Homo sapiens: one gene and its partners. The protein of the gene in region 1 purifies or fractionates together with the protein of each later gene. This does not show direct contact. Each region holds a gene or a part of one and is shown in the gene's direction. Other genes may lie near its edges. The genes, in order: SPATA1, WNK2, VPS39, FLYWCH2, PPP4R3B, PCK1 and WDCP.

The links.
Region 2: the proteins of SPATA1 (region 1) and WNK2 purify together in Homo sapiens (affinity purification with mass spectrometry; one large-scale study listed by BioGRID and IntAct). This does not show direct contact.
Region 3: the proteins of SPATA1 (region 1) and VPS39 purify together in Homo sapiens (affinity purification with mass spectrometry; one large-scale study listed by BioGRID and IntAct). This does not show direct contact.
Region 4: the proteins of SPATA1 (region 1) and FLYWCH2 purify together in Homo sapiens (affinity purification with mass spectrometry; one large-scale study listed by BioGRID and IntAct). This does not show direct contact.
Region 5: the proteins of SPATA1 (region 1) and PPP4R3B purify together in Homo sapiens (affinity purification with mass spectrometry; one large-scale study listed by BioGRID and IntAct). This does not show direct contact.
Region 6: the proteins of SPATA1 (region 1) and PCK1 purify together in Homo sapiens (affinity purification with mass spectrometry; one large-scale study listed by BioGRID and IntAct). This does not show direct contact.
Region 7: the proteins of SPATA1 (region 1) and WDCP purify together in Homo sapiens (affinity purification with mass spectrometry; 2 studies listed by BioGRID and IntAct, with this or other methods). This does not show direct contact.

Annotation. Positions count from the first base shown.
Region 1 is NC_000001.11:84,558,386-84,561,885, forward strand, and holds part of SPATA1 (spermatogenesis-associated protein 1), read left to right. Parts: intron 1-3,500.
Region 2 is NC_000009.12:93,316,639-93,320,138, forward strand, and holds part of WNK2 (serine/threonine-protein kinase WNK2), read left to right. Parts: intron 1-881; coding exon 882-993; intron 994-1,234; coding exon of another isoform or gene 1,235-1,436; exon of another isoform or gene 1,437-2,570; intron 2,571-3,500. UniProt on the Homo sapiens protein: Serine/threonine-protein kinase component of the WNK2-SPAK/OSR1 kinase cascade, which plays an important role in the regulation of electrolyte homeostasis, cell signaling, survival, and proliferation.
Region 3 is NC_000015.10:42,201,805-42,205,304, reverse strand, and holds part of VPS39 (vam6/Vps39-like protein), read left to right. Parts: intron 1-3,500. UniProt on the Homo sapiens protein: Regulator of TGF-beta/activin signaling, inhibiting SMAD3- and activating SMAD2-dependent transcription.
Region 4 is NC_000016.10:2,886,215-2,889,714, forward strand, and holds part of FLYWCH2 (FLYWCH family member 2), read left to right. Parts: intron 1-3,500.
Region 5 is NC_000002.12:55,558,623-55,562,122, reverse strand, and holds part of PPP4R3B (serine/threonine-protein phosphatase 4 regulatory subunit 3B), read left to right. Parts: intron 1-3,154; coding exon 3,155-3,348; intron 3,349-3,500. UniProt on the Homo sapiens protein: Regulatory subunit of serine/threonine-protein phosphatase 4 (PP4). May regulate the activity of PPP4C at centrosomal microtubule organizing centers.
Region 6 is NC_000020.11:57,566,366-57,568,621, forward strand, and holds the end of PCK1 (phosphoenolpyruvate carboxykinase, cytosolic [GTP]), read left to right. Parts: 3' UTR 1-1,756; downstream 1,757-2,256. UniProt on the Homo sapiens protein: Cytosolic phosphoenolpyruvate carboxykinase that catalyzes the reversible decarboxylation and phosphorylation of oxaloacetate (OAA) and acts as the rate-limiting enzyme in gluconeogenesis.
Region 7 is NC_000002.12:24,037,392-24,040,891, reverse strand, and holds part of WDCP (WD repeat and coiled-coil-containing protein), read left to right. Parts: intron 1-1,379; 5' UTR 1,380-1,397; coding exon 1,398-3,215; intron 3,216-3,500.

The DNA of each region.
Region 1 (3,500 bases):
TTCACGCCATTCTCCTGCCTCAGCCTCCCAAGTAGCTGGGACTACAGGCGCCCGCCACTACGCCCGGCTAATTTTTTTTGTATTTTTAGTAGAGACGGGGTTTCACCGTTTTAGCCGGGATGGTCTCGATCTCCTGACCTCGTGATCCGCCCGCCTCAGCCTCCCAAAGTGCTGGGATTACAGGCGTGAGCCACCGCGCCCGGCCACTTTTTTTTAATTAAAAAAAAAAAAGAGGCCAAGTGCAGTGGCTCACACCTGTAATCCCAGCATTTTGGGAGGCCAAGGTGGGAGAATCACTTGAGGCCAGGAGTTCAAGACCAGCCTGGGCAATATAGAAAGACCCCGTCTCTACAAAAAGTAAAAAAATCAGCCTGGCATGATGGCACACGCCTATGGTCCTAGCTACTTGGTAGGCTGAGGCAGGAGGATTGCTTGAGCCCAAGAGGTCAAGGCTGCAGTGAGCCATGATTGTGCCACTGCACTCCATCCTGGGTGACAGAGCAAAACCTCGTCTAAAAAAAAAGAAGAATGTGTTCCTGCATTTTCACATTCATTAAGGAAAAAACAAGCCACAGATTACTAAGGTCAGGATTACAAAGAAACAGTATATGGTAGTATATACTGTCCTAAGATTCTATGTTACATATTTTTAAATTACAGGCATACCTCATTTTATTGTACTTTGCTTTATTGTGCTTTGCAGACATTAAATTTTTTGCAAATTGAAGGTTTATGGCAACTCTATTGAACAAGTCTACTGGTGCCATTTTTCCAACAGCAAGTGCTCATTTTGTGTCTGTGTCACATTTTGGCAATTCTTAAAATATTCCAAACTTTTTCATTATTATTATTATATCTGTTATGATGATCTGCAATCAGTGGTCTTTGATGCTACTATTGTAATTGTTTGTGGGCACCATGAACTGCCCATATAAGACTTAATAACAATATTTGGCTAGGCGCGGTAGCTCACGCCTGTAATGCCAACACTTTGGAAGGCCGAGATGGGAGGATCACTTGAAGTCAGGAGTTTCAAACCAGCCTGGCCAACATGGTGAAACCACATCTCTACTAAAAATACAAAAAATTAGCCGGGCATGGTAGGGCATCCCTATAACCCCAGATATTTGGGAGGCTAAGGCACGAGACTCACTTACACCTAGGAGGCAGAGGTTGCAGTGAACTGAGATTGTGCCACTGCACTCCAGCCTGGGTGACGGAGCGATACTCCATCTCAGAAAAAAAAGACTTAATAACGATATTGAAATTAGACTAATAACCTTACAATGGGAATTTTGCAATGAATAAAAAAGAGGAAGAAAATAGTTATAATTAGATTGTTTTCTGAAGTGACATTAAATGGCCTTCAAGGCTCACCAAAATGTTTCCTGAATTCTAAGAGCTTAAACAATGTGTTGGCCAGGTGCAGTGGCCCATGCGTGTAATCCCAGGCCTTTGGGAGGCCAAGGTAGGCGGATCACTTGAGGTCAGGAGTTTGAGACCAGACTGGCCTACATAGTGAAACCCCATCTCTACTAAAAATATAAAAATTAGCCCGGCATAGTGGCGGGCACCTGTAATCCCACCTATGGGGGAAGCTGAGGAGTAGAATTGCTTGAACCCAGGAGGCAGAGGGTGCAGTGAACCCAGAGGGCGCCACTGCACTACAGCCTGGGCGACAGAGCAAGACTCTGTCTCAAAAAAAAAAAAAAAAAGAAAGAAAGAAAGAAAGAAAGAAAGAAAGAAAGGAAAGAAAGAAAGAAAGAGAAACTAGAATCCCTCTTCCCTAAAATGGGTCATAGAAACTAGAGCCTCTTTTCCCCAAAACCAGCCATAAAGTCTAAAAATGTTACTCTAACCTTTCCCACCACCACCTTTCTGTGTAATAGCTGGCCATAAAGAAATTAAGACCCTCATTCCAGAGAGGTCCTACCCCATACCCATGAGAAGAAATCCTTCACAGAGAGGCCAAGAAAAATCTGAACAGACAGTCCTTGCTGAGTTTTCCCACTCAGTCTGTTTGCATTAGCTCATGCCCTTTATTCTGATCACAGTTCTACATAGCTGTCCATACTTCGTTGAACCTAAGCACAAAAATGGACAGTTTTTCCTGTATCTTTGGGTTTTCATTCTGAAACCTCCCATGTCGGGTAAAATTATGATCAAACACATTTTAAAAGGCAGAGACCCCTTTCTTCAAATAAATCTTATATTGGAAGAAGATGATGCCATTTAAGACTTTGCTAGCTAGACAGGAGAAGTCAATACCTGGCTTTAAAGCTCAAAGTACAGGCTGATTCTCTTGTTAGGGACTAATGAGGGTGGTAACTTTAAGTTGAAGCCAGTGTTCATTTACCATTCCAAAAATCCTATGGCACTTAAGAATTATGCTAAATTGACTCTGCCTGTGATCTATAAATGGAATAACAAAGCCTGGCTCACAGCACATCTGTTTACTGAATATCTTAAGCCCACTGCTGAGATGTACTAAGAAAAAAAAGAGATTTCTTTCAAAATATTACTGCTCATTGACAATGCACTTGGTCACCCAAGAGCTCTGATGGAGAACACAAGATGAATGTTATTTTCATGCCTGCTAACACAACATCCATTCTGCAGCCCATGGAACAAGGAGTAATTTCAACTTTTAACTCTTATTAATTAAGAAATAGATTTTGTAAGGCTGTAGCAGCCAAAGACAGTAACTCCTTTCATGGATCTGGCCAAAGTAAACTGAAAGCTTTTTGGAAAGGATTCACCATTCTAGATGCCATTAAGAACATTCATGATTCATGCATGGGAGGAGGTCAAAATATCAACATTAACAGGAGTTTGGAAGAAGTGGGTTACAACCCTCATGGATGACATTGAGGGGTTCAAGACTTCAGTGAAGGAAGTAACTGCAGAGGTAGTGGAAACAGCAAGAGAATTAGAATTGGAGGTGAATCCTAAATATGTGACTCAATTGCTACAATCTCGTGATAAAATTTGAATAGATGAGGAGCTACTTCTTATGAATACGCAAAGAAAGTAGTTTCTTGAGAATGGAATCTATTCCTGGTAAAATGCTGTGAACATTGTTCAAATAACAGCAAAGGATTTAGAATATTCTATAAACTTATTAATAAAGCAGCAGCAGAGTTTGATGGGGTTGACTCCAATTTTGAAAGAAGTTCTACTGTGGGTAAAATGCAATCAAATAGCATCACGTTTTACACAGAAATCTTTCGTGAAAGGAAGAGTCAATTGACGTGGCAAACTTCACTGTTGTCTTATTTTAAGAAATTGCCATAGCCACCCCAACCTTCAGCAACCACCACCCTGATCAGTCAGCAGCCATCAATGACAAGGCAAGACACTCTTCCAGCAAGCAGGTTATAACTTGATAAAGGCTCAGATGATCGTTATCATTTTTTTAGCAATAAAGTATTTTTAAATTAAGGTATGTACTTTTTTTAGACATAATGCTATTACACACTTAACAGACTACAGTATAGTAT
Region 2 (3,500 bases), on another chromosome or scaffold:
TGGTTTGTCCATTCTTGTGGGTTTTCTGCATACACAGTCTTGTCATCTGCATGAGGCCAGTTCTCCTTCTCTCTGTCCAGTCTGTGCGGTTGACTCCTTTTCCTCCCCGCCTGGAGATCCCCGTGGTGTCGACTGGAAGCATGGAGGCACCTTGGGGAGGTATTGGGCATTTTGTCGTGGGCAGGGGCTCAGCTGTCGGTTCCATAGAGGACCTTCCAGATAAGGAGGCCCCTCCAGCCCCTGACTGCCGAGCTTGATTTCCAGGAAGGGTTGTGGAAGTCACCGAGTGCCCTCCATGCACCTGTGAAGAGTGCCCAGTGGGGCCCTCCCTGGAGTGGAGAGGAGTGACTCCCCGTGGCCAGCAGCCTTGCCTTCCTGGGGCACACCCCGCATACAGCTTCTCCCCGGGCTGGGACAGTGGAAGGGCTGCCTTGCCATCACCTCCCTGCACACTTGCTTTGCCCAGGTCCTGGGGCTCTGCTCCTGCCAGCTCCTGGGTGGTTCATGCTCCTGTGAGGGCACTGACCAGCCAAGCAGGAGGGCTTTGTGGTGGCTGAGTAGAGGCATGTGGGGTCACTCATGCGCCCTCAGGGTCCAGGCCCCACTAGTCCTCCTCCAAGTCCCATTTTGGCTGGTGGACACCCAGGTGTGTGGCCTAGAGGCTATCAGGCTGCAGCTTGGGGAAGCAAACAAGGGAGGGTGATGGTTCCTGGCCCCACACCATCATTCTGGTGTCAGCCCTGAGAGGGTGCCTGTCACAGCAGGTTCCAGGACTGCTGCCTCCTGAGGATGGAGAAACTGTGGCACCCTGGGGGCCACTAAGGGAGGCCAGCTGATTGCAGCCACGTGTACCTTCCTCTTCTCGTCTCTGTGTTTTGTAGATGACCGCACCTCGAGCAGGAGTGGGGATGCCACGTCTGCCCCCAGCGCCCGGCCCTCTGTCCACCACGGTCATTCCCGGAGCCGCCCCGACCCTGTCCGTGCCCACACCAGGTACTGCCCTCTCCAACCTCCCAACCCCACCCTGTGCGCTGCCTCTGGGTCAGTACAGAGGCCTGCTCCCAGCTCCAGTGTCCTGGGGGCCCTGGGCAGGCCAGGTGGGCCAGCTGGGGGCACAGGGCAGCTGGAACACCCCCCAGGTGCCCGTGCTGCCAGTCTTCTTGCAGCCACCTGTGGTCAGCATGCCTGGCCCCCGGCTGCGGATCACGTAGCCTTCTGCCCTGTCCCTTGCCAGATGGCGCCCTCGGAACCGCCCGGAGAAACCAGGTGTGGTTTGGCCTCCGAGTCCCCCCCACCGCCTGCTGTGGGCACAGCACTCAGCCGCGAGGGGGACAGCGGGTGGGCAGCAAGACTGCTTCCTTTGCGGCTTCAGACCCTGTTCGCTCCTAGGTTCCTGTGGTCCACGCGCCGTCTCCACACCCACTTCCTATACTTGAGTTGATGGTTAGAACCTTGTCGTCACCCTGCAGAAGTACAGTGCCTTGAATGCCAGCTTTTCCGTTCCCTGATGAAAAGATATGTTAAAAAAAATTATCGGAAAAGGTTTCATTTGCAATTGGCTTGTGCATTGATAATCTTTATTTACTGTTTTAAGTTGCAGAGATGTGAATGGTTTACAAATCTGAAGCTGAAGTTCAATCTTTGGTTTTCTGTTGTAAATGCCTTTTACAAACATTGAATTAGCTACCTTAAGTATTGAAGAGCTTCCATTGCTAGGTGAGCCCTGCTTTGTCCTCAGTAGAGTGCCGGTTCCCTGGGCTCATCCAGGGGCTGAGAGACGGCGGGACGCTGGGGCAGGGCACACTGGCGGAGCTGCTTGCTCAGTAGGGAATGTCAGTTGTTGCGCTGGGCCATGAGAAATCCGCCAGAAAACGTTAGGTGAGCAGACATGCCCCCCATGCCAGTGGGCTGCTGTGAGTGAGGATAAGGTGTGTGTTGGGCATAGAAACCCTGGCTGCCCGCCCACCCTGTGGAGACAAGTGCAGCTCCTCCAGCTGGAGAGGCTGCCCTCTCTCCTGCCCACTTCCCTCCCTTCTCCATGATTTCCATGGAGACCTGTGGCTCTGCTCACCCCTGGCATGCAGACCGCTCTCCCGTCCAGCCCTAAGCCTGCTCTGCGGAGGGCGGGGTCATTCTTCTCCTGGAGATTTCAGTGGGACTCGTCCCCAGTGGGCACAACACAGCCCTTGGTGGGAGGGGAAGGCCCCAGCCTCCTCCACCTCCCACTGGAAAGCAGACTGCTTGGGACTGCCCAGCTGTGAATTGTATAGTTTCTGTACTTATTAGAACTGGGTAAATTATTTTGGTTCAAATCTATTATTCCATCAATTCAGTTAGAATTGAATTTTCTAGGTGATTATGCAGAATCTTCTGCCAGGGCACGATGCTGTCGTAAGAGATTTCTGTTCTCTGTACTGGGCCCCCTTGCCCTGTTCCTTGAGTGAAGTGGGGGCTGCCCTCACCTGTCCCCCTTGCCTGTGAATCCCTTCCTTGTACATGGTGGTCAGTGGCACGGAATCCCCAATAGATTGTATATCTGAAGGAGAAAAATAAACACTTTTGCTCGAAAACAGTGTGAAACAACATCTTTTTCTTACCCTCTATCCATATAAAATCCAAAGCAACCAGCCTCCTAGGGAGCACAGGAGTTGGGAGCCAGTTCTGGGCTCAGCTGCATCCACACCTCTGGAGGAGGGTGCTGAGGGGCTGCGGGTGCTGGGCTGGGCTGTCCCCGGCAGGGGTCTGAGAGCAGGGCATCTGGCAGGGCTGCCTGGCCCCCAACACTGCCCCCGCCAGCTGTGGCCTGGGCCCCGAGCACGGTCAGCTCTGCTGGTCGGGTTAGCTGGCTGGGCTGCCCACCACTCTGCACCTGATTACACTTAGCAGTGCCACGGGCTGTGACCATGATGGAGGGAGCCAGCCTCCTGGTCAGCGAGACACACCTGCAGCCCCTGTCTCCAGGAGGCTTGGTTTGCATTACTTGCTGCAGCCCCTGGGGCCACCCTCTTTGCTCCAGATGGGCCGAGCTCAGGGGAAGTGGGAGCTCCTCAGATGAGCTTGGACTTGTTGAGAGGAGGACTTGGGGCTGGGGTTGCCCATGGATCATGCAAGGGGCAGTGGCTTTTCTGGTAGGCACAGGGGCCTTAGGGAAGGTGGCCATCCAGGGTGGGGCCTCATCCTGTGGGACTCAGCGCATGGTGGCAGCCAGCCCCCCAGCATCCCACTAAAGACAGCCTCGAGCTGACTGTGGTCCCTCCTGCGTGTGCATTGCAGGCCTCACTGTGAGCAAGCTGAGGGTCCCAGTGTCTCCTGCCCGGTCCACTGTGGGGGCTGCCTTGGCTGTGGGGCCACCTCCTCAGAGAGCTGCAGTGCCAGCCTTCGAGCTTCTGCATGGAGGGAGGAGGAACACTCATCCCAGAGCCTCCTGTTTTGGGTGTTGGAGGGCAGCTCACTCCCCAGATGCTCCAGACGGTACAGGAGCAGAGCGTCTGTTTGGGTTT
Region 3 (3,500 bases), on another chromosome or scaffold:
CCTTATCTTCTAATCATGGGTCACCATCTACTGTTATTTTATATATTTAATTATTATTGCCTCTCTCACTCCACATTAGAATATAAGTTCCCTCAGGGCAGTATCTTTGTTTTCTGCATTGCTATATCTGCAGTACCTAAAACATTTCCTGACTCAATGGGTATTCATTAAATATATATTTAATGAATAATGTTAATATGAATAGTAATAGCTTGCAGTTGTTAAATGCTAATCTGTATTAGGCTTTTATAAAATAAGACTCCATTTTACAGAAGAAAGACCTAAGGCTTAGAAAATTTAAGAAATTTTTCCAAGGTCACATGTCCTGTAAATCATGTCTGCTTCTAGAGCCTGGTTCTCAAACTTGAATGTATATTCAAAGCCTGTAAAAAATGCAGACTTCACATGTATATATGAGTATCTGTATGTCTATATATACATACATACCTATATTTTCCAGAGAAACAATGGAAAGATAAGTCAAAAATTACTAAAATGATGCCCATAGCAGAAGGGAGAAGAGAGGATAAAATGGACAATGATAGAAACTAGACTTTTCGTCGTTTTAGCTTTGGAACTACATGAATGTTTCATAAAAACAAATAAAATTTAATTTAATTTTATTTTATTTTATTTTATTTCATTATTATTTTTTGAGACTGAGTCTCGCTCTGTCGCCCAGGCTGAAGTGCAGTGGTGCAATCTCAGCTCACTGCAACCTCTGCCTCCCAGGTACAAGCCACTGTCGTGCCTCAGCCTCCCGAGTAGTTAGGATTACTGCCACCCACCACCATACCTGGCTTATTTTTGTAGTTTTAGTAGAGACGGGGTTTCGTCATGTTGGCCAGGCTGGTCTCAAACGCCTGACCTGAGGTGATCCGCCCACCTCGGCCTCCCAAAGTGCTGGGATTACAGGCGTGAGCCACTTTGCCCAGCCAACAAGATTAAATTTTAAAATGTAAATTTCAGGGTACCACTTCAAAGCCATTGAATCTGAATCTCCATGTGCAGGGCCCAGGAATGTGCATTTTTAATAAGTCCAGGTGATTCTAATGCAGCTAATTGGGGGCTTATGCCCAGATGAGAAGTACTGTTATTTGCCATGTTACCCAACGAAGGGAAGTGACTACTATCTTACTTATCTTTGTGGTCCCTGCAGTGGCCAGCATTGGGCCAGAAATGGAATTTATTACATGAAGTTGGACTGCATTGCACTGTTGGAAGGAGCTCCATTAGGGTAATTATGAGCAATAGGGCCTAGCCCTCCTTCTCAGGAGGAATTAAGTCCAACCTTGTGGCTCAGGGTTAGGCCGTCAGGAGTTTTTTAGGGCTGATACTGCTTTGCTTATGTGTGCGTTTTGTGTTTGCTTAGTATGTCTCACTTTCTGTTGTGTGTTACTGTATTGAGTCTCAGAAGGCACTGTCCATCCCATGCTGCGCGTGCTCTGCAGGCTTGTCATCCTCTGTGTTGTGCATGCACAGCTTTGTTAAATAACGTGTCCTAGAGAGTGGAGGACCCAACATGGGACAGGTCCTCTGGCTAATGGCACATGTAATCAATCAGGTTGATTTAAAAGTTTACAGAGAATTTAATCCATCGGATTGATTCCCTTTTATGACCAGTAGAATAGACATTTTATTTTTTTAATTAATTTTTTTTTTGGAGGCAGAATTTCACACTTGTCACCCAGGCTGGAGTGCAATGGCGCACAATCTCCACTCACTGCAACCTCCGCCGCCAGTGTTCAAGTGGTTCTCCTGTCTCAGCCTCCCTAGTACCTGGGATTACAGGTGCTCACCAGCACACCTGGCTAATTTTTTTTTTTTTTTTGAGACAGAGTCCTGCCCCGTCACCCAGGCTGGAGTGCAGTGGTACGATCTCAGCTCACTGCAGCCTCTCCCTCCGGGGTTCATGCAGTTCTCTTGCCTCAGTCTCCTGAGTAGCTGGGATTACAGGCACACACACCACCATGCCTGGCTAATTTTTTTTGTATTTTTAGTAGAGATGGGTTTCCACTGTGTTGGCCAGACTGGTCTTGAACTCCTGACCTCAGGTGATCTGCCCGCCTTGGCCTTCCAAAGTGCTGGGATTACAGGCATGAGCCAACCACACTCGGCCTAATTTTTATATTTTTTAGTAGAGACGGGGTTTCACCATGTTGGCCAGGCTAGTCTCAAACTCCTGACCTCCAGTGATTCGCCCACTTCGGCCTCCGTGCCCGGCCCCTAGACATTTGACTTTTTAAAATGTTTTGTCATGTCTTAGTTTGGGTTCACAAGAAAAAAAAAAAGTAAATTAAAAAATCTATTGGCAAGAAACATTTCAATAAAAATGGAAAATAGACTCTTGAATGTCATGTTTAGGAATTTGACTTCATATTTTGGTAGTGTAGCTTCACAGGATTTTTTAAGCCCCAGTGTGACAGCATCAGAGATCTGCTCTAAGATAACTGACAGCAAATGCGAGAGAATGCATGGAGTGAATGAGACCAGTTGAAGGTGTCACAGGGGTCCCCAGAGAGACTCTATAGGAGGAGGCTGTCATGAGGTACCATTACAGGTAGAATTGATAGACCCTGGCCGACTTGGGAGGAAGCTGAGGCTATTAAAAAAGATAAAGAAAAGCAGGAACTGGCAGGGATTTGGGGGACAGAGTGGAGAGAGAAGGATGGGGAAGATGATGAACATTATGTTGGCCTTTTGTTTTGGTTGTAGATTTTTATGTATGTTATGAGTGGATTTTTAAAAAATTTCCACTTCATTTTATTTATATCTGAAATATCAGTGGGTGGCCTAAAAATCAACTTTAATATTGCTAAATTGCTTGATATCATGATATCTATAAAGTTCTAAATATAGTATCTTTTACAAAACAAATATTGCAAAATGAATTCTTTTATTTTTTCATGTTCTGCTGCAGCATAAATCTCCAGCCTTCATTAGAGCTGCTGTTATTTCTGATTTCAACATTTTTTTTGTGTGTGACCTGCCTTTCCTTTAAGACCCCAAATCAAAGAAAATAGAATCACTCTGTTTTTCTGGATGACTAAGAACATCATCCTGGAGAAATACTATTGATCCTTTGGATAAGGAATGTAGGTGCTGACCTGTTTTTATAAATATAACTACTGCCATTCAGACAACCTTTGGCTGACACCCATTTTTTTTGACATGGGTGCCTTAGTAAGTACATCACAGCATGTGGTTGGGAATCAAGACAAATTGGGGTTGGGATCCCAACTCTGCTGCTTGCCACATGTGTGACTCTGGAAAAGTTATATATTCCCTAGGCCTCAACTTCCTCATCTATAAAATGGGGATTTGAAAAAAGGACTTACTTCAAGGGATAGTTGTGAGGATTAGTGAAATAACAGATGCGTTTAGCATTTCCTGGAACACAATACATGCTCAATAAAAGTTATCTATTTGTACCATTATCCAAGATTTTATTTTACAGAGGTCAAGAATCAAGAGAGTTTATGAAAGGAATGAGTGACCTT
Region 4 (3,500 bases), on another chromosome or scaffold:
TTGATGCCCAGGCTGCAGTGCAGTGTAGTGCAGTGGCGCCACCTCGGCTCACTGAAATCTCCACCTCCCGGGTTCAAGCAATTCTCATGCTGCGCAGCCTCCTGAGTAGCTGGGATTACAGGCATGTGCCACCATGCCACCAATCCAAAAAAGAAAATAATTTTTGTATTTTTAGTAGAGACAGGGTTTCACTATGTTGTCTAGGCTGATCTCGAACTCCTGACCTCAGGTGATCCTCCTGCCTCAGCCTCCCTAAGTGCTGGGATTACAGGCATGAGCCACCACGCCCTGCCCCTTTGTCCTTTTTTTTTTTTTTTTTTTTTTTGAGGCGGATTTTGCTCTTGTTGTCCCGGCTGGAGTGCACTGGTGCAATCTCAGCTTACCGCAACCTCCGCCTCCTGGGTTCAAGCAATTCTCCTGTCTCAGCCTCCTGAGTAGCTGGGATTACAGGCATGTGCCACCAAGCTTGGCTAATTTTGTATTTTTAGTAGAGACAGGGTTTCTCCATGTTGGTCAGGCTGGTCTCGAACTCCCGACCTCAGATGATCCACCTGCCTCGGCCTCCCAAAGTGCTGGGATTACAGGTGTGAGCCACCATGCCCAGCCGCCCATTTTTAAATTGTTTGTTTGTTTGCTTGTTTATTACTGAGTTGTAATAGTTCTTTATAAATTCCAGATACAAGTCCCTTATCAGATATATGATTTGCAAACATTTTTTCCCATTCTATGGGTTATCTCTTAACTTTCAAAAGTTTTATGGCTAAAACACAAAACTCTTAAACTTAGTTGAAGTCCAGTTTATTTCTTCATTGGTTGTTTGTGCCTTTCATTATATTGAAGAAAGCTTTGCCTAATCTAAGGTTATGAGAATTTAGTTTTTCTTTTAAAAAAAAGTTTTATTACTGTAGCTCTTGTAATAAACTATAATTTTTTGTTTTTTTGTTGTTTTGAGACAGGATCTCACTCTGTTACCCAAGCTGGAGTGCAGTGGTGCAATCTCGGCTCACTGCAACCTCCGCCCCACTGGCTTAAGCAATCCTTCCACCTCAGCTTCCCAAGTAGCTGGGACCACGGGTGCACACCACCATGCCCGGCTTTCTTTTTTTTTTTTTTTTTTTGTATTTTTAGTAGAGATGAGGTCTCGCCATGTTGCCCAGGCTAGACCTGAACTCCCGAGCTGAAGAGATCTGCCCACCTCAGCCTCCCAAAGTGCTAGGTTTATAGGCATGAGCCACCATGCCTAGCCATATAATTTATTTAGAGTTAATTTTTGTATATGCTGTGAGGAAAGCATACAACTTCATTCTTTTGTATTGGATATTCAGTGGTCCTAGCATTTAATGTTTGTTTTTATTATTATTATTATTATTTTTTGAGACAGAGTCTTGCTCTGTCACCCAGGCTGAGGTACAGCAGCACAATCACAGCTTACTGCAGCCTTGACCTCCCAGGCTCAAGCAACGCTCCCACCTCAGCCTCCCAAGTTGCTGGAACTACATATGTGCCCCACCACCCTGGTTAATAATATTTTTTTTAGAGATGAGATCTCACTATGTTGCCTAGGCTGGTCTGGAACTCCTGGGTTCAAGCGATCCTCCTACATCACCCTCCCAAAGTACTGGAATTACAAGCATGAGCCACCACGCCTGGCCCAACATTTGTCGTTAAGACTATTTTCCCTCCACAGAACTGTCTTGCCACCTTTGCTGAAAATCAGTTCACCATATATATAAGAGTGTATTTCTGGACTCTCAGTTCTATTCTGTTGATCTCTGTGTCTGTGTTTTGTTTGTTTGTTTGTTTGTTTTTTAAGAGGTGGAGTCTCGCTCTGTTGCCCAGGCTGGAGTGTAGTGGCGTGATCTCGGCTCACTGCAACCTCCGCCTCCCGGGTTCTAGCAATTCTCCTGCCTCAGCCTTCCGAGTAGCTGTGACTATAGTTGCATGCCGCCACACTCGGCTAATTTTTTGTATTTTTAGTAGAGACGGGGTTTCACCATGTTGCTTATGCTGGTCTCAAACTCCTGAGTTCAGGCAATCCACCCACCTTGGCCTCCCAAAGTGCTGGGATTACAGGCATGAGCCACTGTGCCCGGCCTGTGTCGGTCTTTATGCCAGTACCACATTGTATTGATTACTGTAGCTTTGTGATAATATATTTTGAGATAGAGATGTGTCAGTCCTGCAAGTTTTTTTTTTTTCAAGATTGTTTTTGCTATTCTGGGTTCCTTGAATTTTCATATGAATTTTAGGACCAGCTTGTCAGTTTCTCCAAAAAAAAAAAAAAAAAAAGCCAGCTGGAATTAAGAATCTATAGATCAATGTCAGAAGTGTTGTCATCTTAACAATATCAAGTCTTCCAATCCATGAACATGGGATGTCTTTCCATTTGTTTAGGGCTTCTTTAATTTCTTTCAACAATGTCATGATCTTCTTGGGGAACCTGAAGCCCAGTAGGTGCTCCAGTCCTGTGGGCTGACCAGCTTGACCAGCTAAGCCTCTTATCCTGGAGGAAGTCCCAGGACTGGCTTCTTCTTGGCTACCTTGTCCTCCAAATGGAGAGTATGAGGAGATCTTCATAACCTTCACTTCTCTGAGATTCTGTGGAATTATTTCTCTGCAGCTTCATGAGCTAGAGCAAATATCATGGTTTTTAAGAGCAGAAGTAACTTTTTAAGTTAAAAAGTCATGGAAGCAAATTTATTATTGCACTACTTAGGAGGTGTGCATGGGACTAATTGTAGAAAAGAAATATTTGTCATTTTTGAAAATGAGGTATTAAACACTATGATTAACTGAAATTTGATATTCAGAAAAGTATCACTTGTGTTTTTCCAGAACGCATAAAAATGATTCATAAAACACAGTTCCTACCAGGCAACCTTTGTCAGGGCCATTTTGCTCAAAATTTGGTGTTTTTTTGTTGTTGTTGTTGTTGTTTGTGTGTGTGTATACATGTGTATACAGTCATTTTTCAATCTGTTCTTCTAACCTTTACTTTTTTTTTTTTTTTTTTTGAGACGGAGTCTCGCTCTGTCACACAGCTTGGAATACAGTGGCCCGATCTTGGCTCACTGCAAGCTCTGCCTCCCAGGTTCACGCCATTCTCCTGCCTCAGCCTCCCGAGTAGCTGGGACTACAGGCGCCTGCCACCATGCCCGGCTAATTTTTTGTATTTTTAGTAGAGATGGCATTTCACCGTGTTAGCCAGGATGGTCTCAATCTCCTGACCCTGTGATCCACCCGCCTCAGCCTCCCAAAGTGCTGGGATTAGAGGCGTGAGCCACTGCGCCCGGCCAACCTTTACTTTTAAAGAAAAAGCACTAGGAAAGACTATATTAAAAAAAAAAAACAACCTGAAAAAGAGCAAAGTTGCTTATGCTGGGTTTTCTGTGATAAAATAGTTAATGTTTTGGGTCATATTAATGCAGCTAGCTACTTACCTTTAAAAAAAACTTTTTATTTTGGAATTATTTTAGCTTTATAGAAAAGTCCGAGAGGCA
Region 5 (3,500 bases), on another chromosome or scaffold:
GAAACAACCAGATCTCGTGAGAACTCACTATCACAAAAATAGCAAGGGGGTTTTCTGCCTCCATGATTCAGTCATCTCCTCCAACACCTGGGGATTACAATTCACAATGAGATTTGGGTGGGGACAAGAGCCAAACCATATCATTCCACCCCGGTCCCTCCCTAATTTCATGTCCTTTTTACATTTCAAAACCAATCATGCCTTCCCAACAGTCCCCCATAACTCATTCCAGCATTAACTCAAAAGTCCAAGTCCAAAGTCTCATATGAGACAAAGTAAATCCCTTCTGCCTGTGATCCTATAAAATAAAAAACAAGTTAGTTACCTCCAAGATACAACGGGGGTACAGACATTGGGTAAATGCTCCCATTCCAAATGGAAGAAATTGGCCAAAACAAAGGGGCTACAGGCCCTGGGCAAGTGCAAAGCCCAGCAGGGCAGTCTTTAAATCTTAAAGCTCCAAAATAATCTCCTTTGACTCCATGTTTCACATCCAGGGCATGCTGATACAACAGGTAGGCTCCCAGGGCCATGGCTGGCTTCGCCCCTATGGCTTTGCCAGGTACAGCCCCCATGGCTGCTTTCATGGGCTAGAGTTGAGTGCCTGTGGCTTTTCCAGGTGCATGGTGCAAGCTGTTGGTAGATCTACTGTTCTGGGGTCTGGAGGATGGTGGCCCTCTTCTCATGGCTCCACTAGGCAGTATCCCAGTGGGGACTCTATGTGGGGGCTCCAACCTCACATTTCCCTTCCGCACTGCCCTAGTAGAGGTTCTTCATAAGAGCTCTGCCCCTGCAGCAGATTTCTGCCTAGATATCCAGGCATTTCTATATGTCTTCTGAAATCTAGGTGGTTTGAGAATCAGAGGTTACCAAACCTCAGTTCTTGCCTCTACCCCACAGGCCCCGTGTCACATGGAAGCCACCAAGAGTTGGGGCTTGCACGCTCTAAAGCCATGGCCCAAGCTGTACCTTGGCTCCTTTTCGCCATGGCTGGAGCTGCAGCACCTGGGATGCAGGGTGTCCCAAGACTGCACAGAGCAGCAGGGCCCTGGGCCCAGCTCACAAAACCATTTTTCCCTCCTAGGCCTCTGGGCCTGTGAATTAACATTTGGCTCCTTGTTACTTATTCAGATTTCTGCAGCCAGCTTGAATTTCTCCCCAGAAAATGGGGTTTTCTTTTCTACTGCATGGTCAGGCTGCAAGTTTTCCAAACTTTATGCTCTGCTCCCTTTTAAATATAAATTCTAATTTCAGACCATCTCTTTCTTCATGCATATGAGCATACGCTTTTAGAAACCGCCAGAAGGCCTCTTTTTTTTTTTTTTTTTTTTTTTTTTTTTTTTTCTGAGATGGAGTCTCTCTCTGTTGCCCAGGCTGGAATGCAGTGGCATGATCTCAGCTCACTGCAACCTCTGCCTCCCAGGTTCAACTGATTGTCCTGCCTCAGCCTCCCAAGTAGCTGGGACTATAGGTGTGTGCCACCACGCCCAGCTAATTTTTGTATTTTTAGTAGAGACAGGGTTTCACCCTGTTGGCCAGGCTGGTCTCCAACTCCTGACTTCGTGATCCGCTTGTCTCAGCCTCCCAAAGTGCTGGTGTTACAGGCATGAGCCACTGTGCCCAGCCCAGGCCACCACTTGAATGCTTTGCTGCTTAGAAATTTCTTCCACCAGATATCCTAAATCATCTCTCTCAAGTTCAAGTTCCACAGATCTCTAGGGCAGGGGCAAAATGCCGCCAGTCTCTTTGCTAAAGCATACCAAGTATGACCTTTACTCCAGTTCCGAATAAGTTCCTCACCTCCATCTGAGACCTCCTCAGCCTGGACTTCATTGTCCATATCACTGTTAGCATTTTGGTCAAAACCAGTCAACAAGTCTTTAGGAAGTTCCAGACTTTCCCATATCTTCCTGTCTTTTTCTAAGCCCTCCAAATTGTTCCAACCTCTGTCTATTACCCAGTTCCAAAGTCGCTTCCACATTTTCAGGTATCTTTTTTTTTGAGATGGAGTCTTATTCTGTCATCCATGCTGGTGGGCAGTGGCACAATCTCAGCTCACTGCATCCTCTGCCTCCAGGGTTCAAGCAATTCTCCTGCCTCAGCCACCAGAGCAGCTGGGATTATAGGTGTGCACCACCACCCCCAGCTAATTTTTGTATTTTTAATAGAGAATAGGTTTCATCATGTTGGCCAGGCTGATCTTGAACTCCTGACCTCAAGTGATCCACCCTCCTCAGCCACCCAAAGTGCTGGGATTACAGGCGTGAGCCACTGCGCCCTGCCATTTTCAGGTATCTTTATAGCAGTACCACATTCCTGTTACCAATTTTCTGTATAGTTCGTTTTCACACTGCTCTAAAGAACTACCTGAGACTGTAATTTATGAAGAAAAGAGGTATAATTGACTTAAAATTCCACATAGCTGGGGAGGCCTCAGGAAACTTGTGGCGGAAGGTGAATGGGAAACAAGGCATGTGTTACATGGCAGCAGGAGAGAGAGAGCAAGGGGGGAAGTGCCACCCTTTGGAACAACCAGATCTCGTGAGAACTCACTATCACAAGAACAGCAAGGGCGAAATCCACCCCCATGATCCAGTCACCTCTCACCAGGTCCCTCCCCTGACATGTGGGGATTACAATTTGATTTGCGATTTGGGTGGGGACACAGAGCCAGACCATATCATCACTGTACACATCATGTTCTTTTTCAAAAGTTCTTAGGAAACAAAGGCAATTAATTTTGGTGTTATTTTTTTTTGTTTTTTTGGTTTTTTTTGAGACGGAGTTTCGCTCTTGTTGCCCAGGCTGGAGTGCAGTGGTGCGATCTCGGCTCACCACAACCTCTGCCTCCCAGGTTCAAGTGATTCTCCTGCCTCAGCCTCCCAAGTAGCTAAGATTATAGACATGCGCCACCACACCCGGCTAATTTTGTATTTTTAGCAGAGACGGGGTTTCTCCATGTTGGTCAGGCTGGTCTTGAACTCCGGCCTTGGGTGATCTGCCTGCCTCAGCCTCCCAAAGTGTTGGGATTACAGGCGTGAGCCACCATGCCCGGGCAGCAATGTTTTATAAGTTTTTTAATTACTGCTGTTTTTAGATGTTTTGACTTAGCAGTATTTATTGATATACGTTCAAAATTTTACTTTTGCTTTAGCAAAAGAAAGTGAAGACAAGGAAAACCTTCCCAAAAGGACATCTCCTGGTGGCTTCAAATTTACTTTCTCCCACTCTGCCAGTGCTGCTAATGGAACAAACAGTAAATCTGTAGTGGCTCAGATACCACCAGCAACTTCTAATGGATCCTCTTCCAAAACCACAAACTTGCCTACGTCAGTAACAGCCACCAAGGTAGGTGAAACAGCATTACACACAAACTTTGCTTTTCCCGTCTGTGAGATTTTTTCATGTTTACTGAAAAAAATTTGGATAATCAAAACAATTTCAATGAATTGTTTAGAATTTTTCTGTTACCAAAATGTTGATTGTAGAATTTTATTTTA
Region 6 (2,256 bases), on another chromosome or scaffold:
TACACCATTGTTCCTTACCTTTACATAATTGCAATATTTCCCCCTTACTACTTCTTGGAAAAAAATTACAAAATGAAGTTTTATAGAAAAGATGGATTTGCTTTGCTTGGTTTTTCTTATTTGAGCTACCAAGAGGAGAGAACTCTGATTAAATATCTTGTGATTTAAATCCTGCCCCCTCCCCAAGAAGGTGGGGACGTTCAGAATCACACTTGAAGAGGGGGTGCATTGCCTGGTCCCAGGGAGAAGGAGGGAGCAGATGGGGAGGAATGAGGCAGGGAACCATGGTTGGGGTTTTCTGAATTTGCTGAAGCCACTAGTTGGCATCCTTTAACAATTCTACAAACCTTTAGATGGTGAGGCTTATGTGGCAGGACTGGGAGGGTTTAATGCATGCTTTTTGACAGTTTGGATCTGGAGGGGTCTCAGGCTTCCACAAAAATTACATTGTGGACAGTTTCATAGGATTTTGCCTTTTAACTCTTCAAAGCAACAGTTTTCTCAACTGTCATCCCCGCGGGGGAGCAGAGGAAGACAAGTGAGAAGGAAAAGGGGACAGGATCTGGGTTGAGCAAGCATTAATTGAGCGCCTTCTGTATCCCGGACATCATGCCAACACCATGGGCTGCCCGAGAAGAGAGGTGGGTGGTTTGGTCCCCAGCTCTGCCTTGAACCCTCACCTGCTCTCCTCTACTCCCAGTGTTTATTGGATATTCCAGAACAGTCCAAACGAACCATAAACTTTATATCACAGATTCAATCTGTGTAAATACTATTATCTTCAAGTTGTAGTTTCTTTCTTGGGCCCAGGCTGTGAAATTGGCTTCACCCCTACCACACCCCAGCGGGCAGGCTTGTTCTTATGTCACACTCCACCCCTCCAGTCTCCTCAACTGGAAAACTTGCCTCTTTTCCTCACTTCCTCTGCTCCTTACAATGGCTTCATATGGAAGGTGAAGCTGAGATCACCCCAATTTTACAGGTGAGGAAACTGAGGTCAAGCTAGGAGCGTCCAGCGGGGCTGAGAAATTGCCAGGATTTCCTTCCCCATTAAGGAGCTGAGAGTCTTAGCTCCAGACACGTTGGCTTGTTAGAATATCAAAACCACCGAAGGGGAAAAACCACTTACTGGAATTAAATGCTATCTGCTGTATTAGTTTAAATCAGTGGCGTTCAAACTTGTTTCTCCTTTTCACTGCGGAACACGTTCTTGACATGTACTTGACTCAGAGTCCCATGTCTAAAGGAGACAGAGCCCAAGGCAGCCCACCTGAAGCTGGGGAGGGAGTCCAAAGTGCAAGCCACCTGGTCTCCATTTCCCCGCCCCTTGGGGGCCTTTGGGCAGCTCCTTGGACCCCTGAAAGAGGCCACCAGGATAAACTTTGTTAAAATGCATGCCTTGTGCCCCACTGTCCTATTACGGGCTTTCAGTAGTCTCCACTCCCTCGGCAGGCAAAGACACTGGCCATCTCCAAATTCCCTCCCCTCCTGCACAGCATCAGCCACCTGGCAAGCAGTCTCACATAGGACCATTTGCCAGCAGGCCCTGCAAGCCTGGGGGACAGCCTAGAGGAGGTGACTTACATACACAGCATAAGAGTTTTCAGGAGACCAAAAAGATTCAATATATGTCATTAACTCCTGACTCAGTTTCCCCAAACCATGCCTCCTGAGTGCTCCCTCTGTCTCCAAATCCTGATTTTTGTGCGCGGACCCCTGTCTACAATAAACAGGATCCTATGACTTCTTTCTTCAATGTTCTCTTGTCGTGCCTTCAGATGATGCAAAGTATGTAAGCTAAGCCCACTTGCAGGAAGCTCACAGAAGGCAAGAGGCTCATCACTTGAAAATACGGTTGGAGTGAGATGGAAAGCCCAGAGTCTCCTGATTCCTGGTCTACCACTGGACCACATGACTCCAAAACCAACACTGTGACTGACGTCCTCTACTGGAGTCCAGTGTAAGAGCTGTCCCCTGACCTCCAGGAAGCTGTGTTGCAGTCTGGGTTAAAGACCAGAAAACAATAGTTACACAGCAAATGTTGAACCAGGACAACAAACCTGCCCTTATTCCCAGTCGAGTCACTTAGGGGGCACTGACAGGTAGGCAGGCGGGGTGGCTAGGTGGGGCCGGGGCACACTTGGGAGTCAGGAGTTACAGGGCTCTTTCTCTTCTCTCCCTCTCCCTGGGGACCCACCCTAACCTGGACACCCCCGGGCTGCTCACTCGGCCCTCTGGATGCCAACAGCATGCACC
Region 7 (3,500 bases), on another chromosome or scaffold:
GGCATGCACCACCACACTTGGCTAATTTTGTATTTTTAGTAGAGATGGGGTTTCTGCATGTTGGTCAGGCTGGGATCGAACTCCCAACCTCAGGTGATCCTCCCGTCTCAGCCTCCCAAAGTACTGGGATTATAGGCGTGAGTCACCACGCCCAGCCCTAAGCATATGCTTCTTTAGTGATTCAAATGCCTGGGGGAAAAATATTCAGGGTGAAAAAATGAAGATAATACTTGCCTAACCTACTTTACATTATTTTAAAAGATTATTGTAAGATAAAATGCAATAGGGAATGTGAAAATGTTCTGAAAATTATTAAGTGCTGTTGAATAAGATGAAGTAGAAGTAGAAATAGAAACAGTGATTTTTGAGTGTCATTTCAATAGAGGGATAAAAGCCACTTTGGAAGGATTTGAAATAAGTGCTAATAAAGTCAGAGATGTGCATATCAGTTATTCATTGATTTGGCAGTGAAAGGACGAATAGAAATTAGATGATGGAGGAGACTTTTCTTAAATTTTTAATTGGAAAATTTTCTAACTTAAAAGTTGAAAGTACCATAAATACTAACATAGCCTCAATCTAGACTCTACAATTATTAACATTTTGCTACATTTGTTTTCTTTCTGTGTGTCTATAGAAAATTTGGGTTTTTTTTGTCAAACCATTTGAAAGCACATTGTAGGCATCATGACATTTTACCCCAAGTGCTTCAACATGCTTATTTAAATAATAAGGACCTTGTCCTGCATAACCACAATACCATGTTCACACTTAAGAAAATTAATAACTCTGGCCGGGCGCGGGAGCTCATGCCTATAATCCCAGCACTTTGGGAGGCTGAGGTGGGTGGATTGCCTGAGGTCAGGAGTTTGAGACCAGCCTGGCCAACATAGTGAAACCCCGTCTCTACTAAAAATAAAAAAAAAATTAGCTGGGCCTGGTGGCAGGCACCTGTAATCCCAGCTACTCTGGAGGCTGAGGCAGAAGAATCGCTTGAACCCAGGAGGCAGAGGTTGAAGTGCGCCGAGATTGTGCCATTGCACTTCAGCCTGAGCAACAAGAGTGAGACTCCGTCTCAAAAAAAAAAAGAAGAAAAATAATAACTCTACAATATTTTCTGATATCCATTCCATACTCAGATTTCCCCAGTTCTAAAAATCTTCATTAGGTAGAAGATTTTATTTCTTCAAGATCCAAAGTATATACATTGCATTTGCCTGATAGCTCAGTAGTCTCTTAATTTATAATACTCCCCCTGTCCTTTTGTCTCTCCACATTATTAACCTGGGAAGGGGCTAAGCCGTTGTCTTACCAAATGTCCTACATTCTAGATTTGTCTAGATTTCTCATGGTGTAACTTTCCTTCTTAATCATTTCAGGTAACCTTTATCAAAAGGATGGAGTTGGGAAAAGGAAAACTACTCAGGACTGGACTGAATGCGTTGCATCAAGCAGTGCATCCGATCCATGGCCTTGCCTGGACCGATGGGAATCAAGTTGTCCTAACTGATTTGCGGCTTCACAGTGGAGAGGTCAAGTTTGGGGACTCCAAAGTCATTGGACAGTTTGAATGTGTCTGTGGGTTGTCCTGGGCCCCACCTGTTGCAGATGATACACCTGTTCTACTCGCTGTCCAGCATGAGAAGCATGTCACTGTGTGGCAGCTGTGTCCCAGCCCTATGGAGTCAAGCAAATGGCTGACGTCTCAGACTTGTGAGATTAGAGGATCACTACCTATCCTTCCCCAGGGCTGTGTGTGGCACCCAAAATGTGCTATTCTGACTGTGTTGACTGCTCAGGATGTCTCCATTTTCCCTAATGTTCACTCTGATGATTCCCAGGTAAAGGCAGACATCAACACCCAGGGCCGCATTCACTGTGCATGTTGGACCCAGGATGGCCTGAGGCTGGTGGTGGCAGTAGGCAGCAGCCTGCATTCTTATATTTGGGACAGCGCTCAGAAGACTCTTCACAGGTGCTCCTCCTGCCTGGTGTTTGATGTGGACAGCCACGTCTGCTCCATCACAGCAACTGTGGACTCACAGGTTGCTATAGCTACTGAGCTTCCATTGGATAAGATCTGTGGCTTAAATGCATCTGAAACCTTTAATATCCCACCTAACAGTAAAGACATGACTCCGTATGCTTTACCAGTTATTGGTGAAGTACGCTCTATGGATAAAGAGGCAACTGATTCTGAAACAAATTCTGAAGTATCAGTTTCTTCTTCCTATTTAGAACCTCTGGATCTAACTCACATACATTTCAATCAACATAAGTCTGAGGGTAATTCTCTTATTTGTCTAAGAAAAAAGGACTACTTGACAGGAACTGGCCAAGATTCTTCACATTTGGTCCTTGTGACCTTTAAGAAGGCAGTTACCATGACGAGAAAAGTCACTATTCCAGGCATTCTGGTTCCTGATCTGATAGCATTTAATCTTAAAGCCCACGTAGTGGCAGTGGCTTCCAACACTTGTAATATAATTTTGATCTACTCTGTCATTCCATCTTCAGTCCCAAACATCCAGCAAATTCGATTAGAGAACACTGAAAGACCAAAAGGGATATGTTTCTTGACAGACCAACTATTACTAATTTTGGTAGGAAAACAAAAACTCACTGATACAACATTTCTTCCTTCTTCAAAGTCTGATCAGTATGCCATTAGCTTGATTGTTAGAGAAATAATGTTGGAAGAAGAACCTTCAATAACATCAGGTGAAAGCCAGACTACCTACTCTACTTTCAGTGCTCCGTTAAATAAAGCAAATAGAAAAAAGTTAATTGAAAGTCTTTCCCCAGATTTTTGTCACCAAAACAAAGGGCTGTTGCTGACAGTTAATACCAGTAGTCAGAATGGAAGGCCTGGAAGAACACTTATTAAAGAAATCCAGAGTCCTCTGTCTAGTATCTGTGATGGCTCCATAGCTCTAGATGCTGAGCCTGTTACCCAGCCAGCATCGCTGCCCAGACACAGCAGCACACCAGACCACACCAGCACACTGGAGCCTCCTCGTTTGCCTCAAAGAAAGAACTTACAAAGTGAAAAGGAAACTTATCAGCTGTCTAAGGAAGTGGAAATTTTATCTAGGAACCTGGTTGAAATGCAACGGTGTCTTTCTGAACTTACAAACCGTCTGCATAATGGGAAGAAATCCTCTTCAGTGTATCCACTCTCTCAAGATCTTCCTTATGTTCACATCATTTACCAGGTAAATTCTCCTTTGAGGAACTACCACTATACATAAAAGCTCCTGCAGCCGGTGAGTACTGCAAGAAACGTATTGATGAGGAAGATGGTGCTCTAACTGAGCTTCACTAAGCTGGGCATGTTATGTTACAGGCAAGTTGGTACACCTTTGCAGGTTGGTTGGTTTTTAGCCTGCCAACCAGATAGGCGCACATATCAGTCTGCATCATGATTTTATCAGGTGCATGACGTGGAAAAATAAATGTCTGCACTAATTCGGGCAATTTATATTTAGAAAAAAAATCAT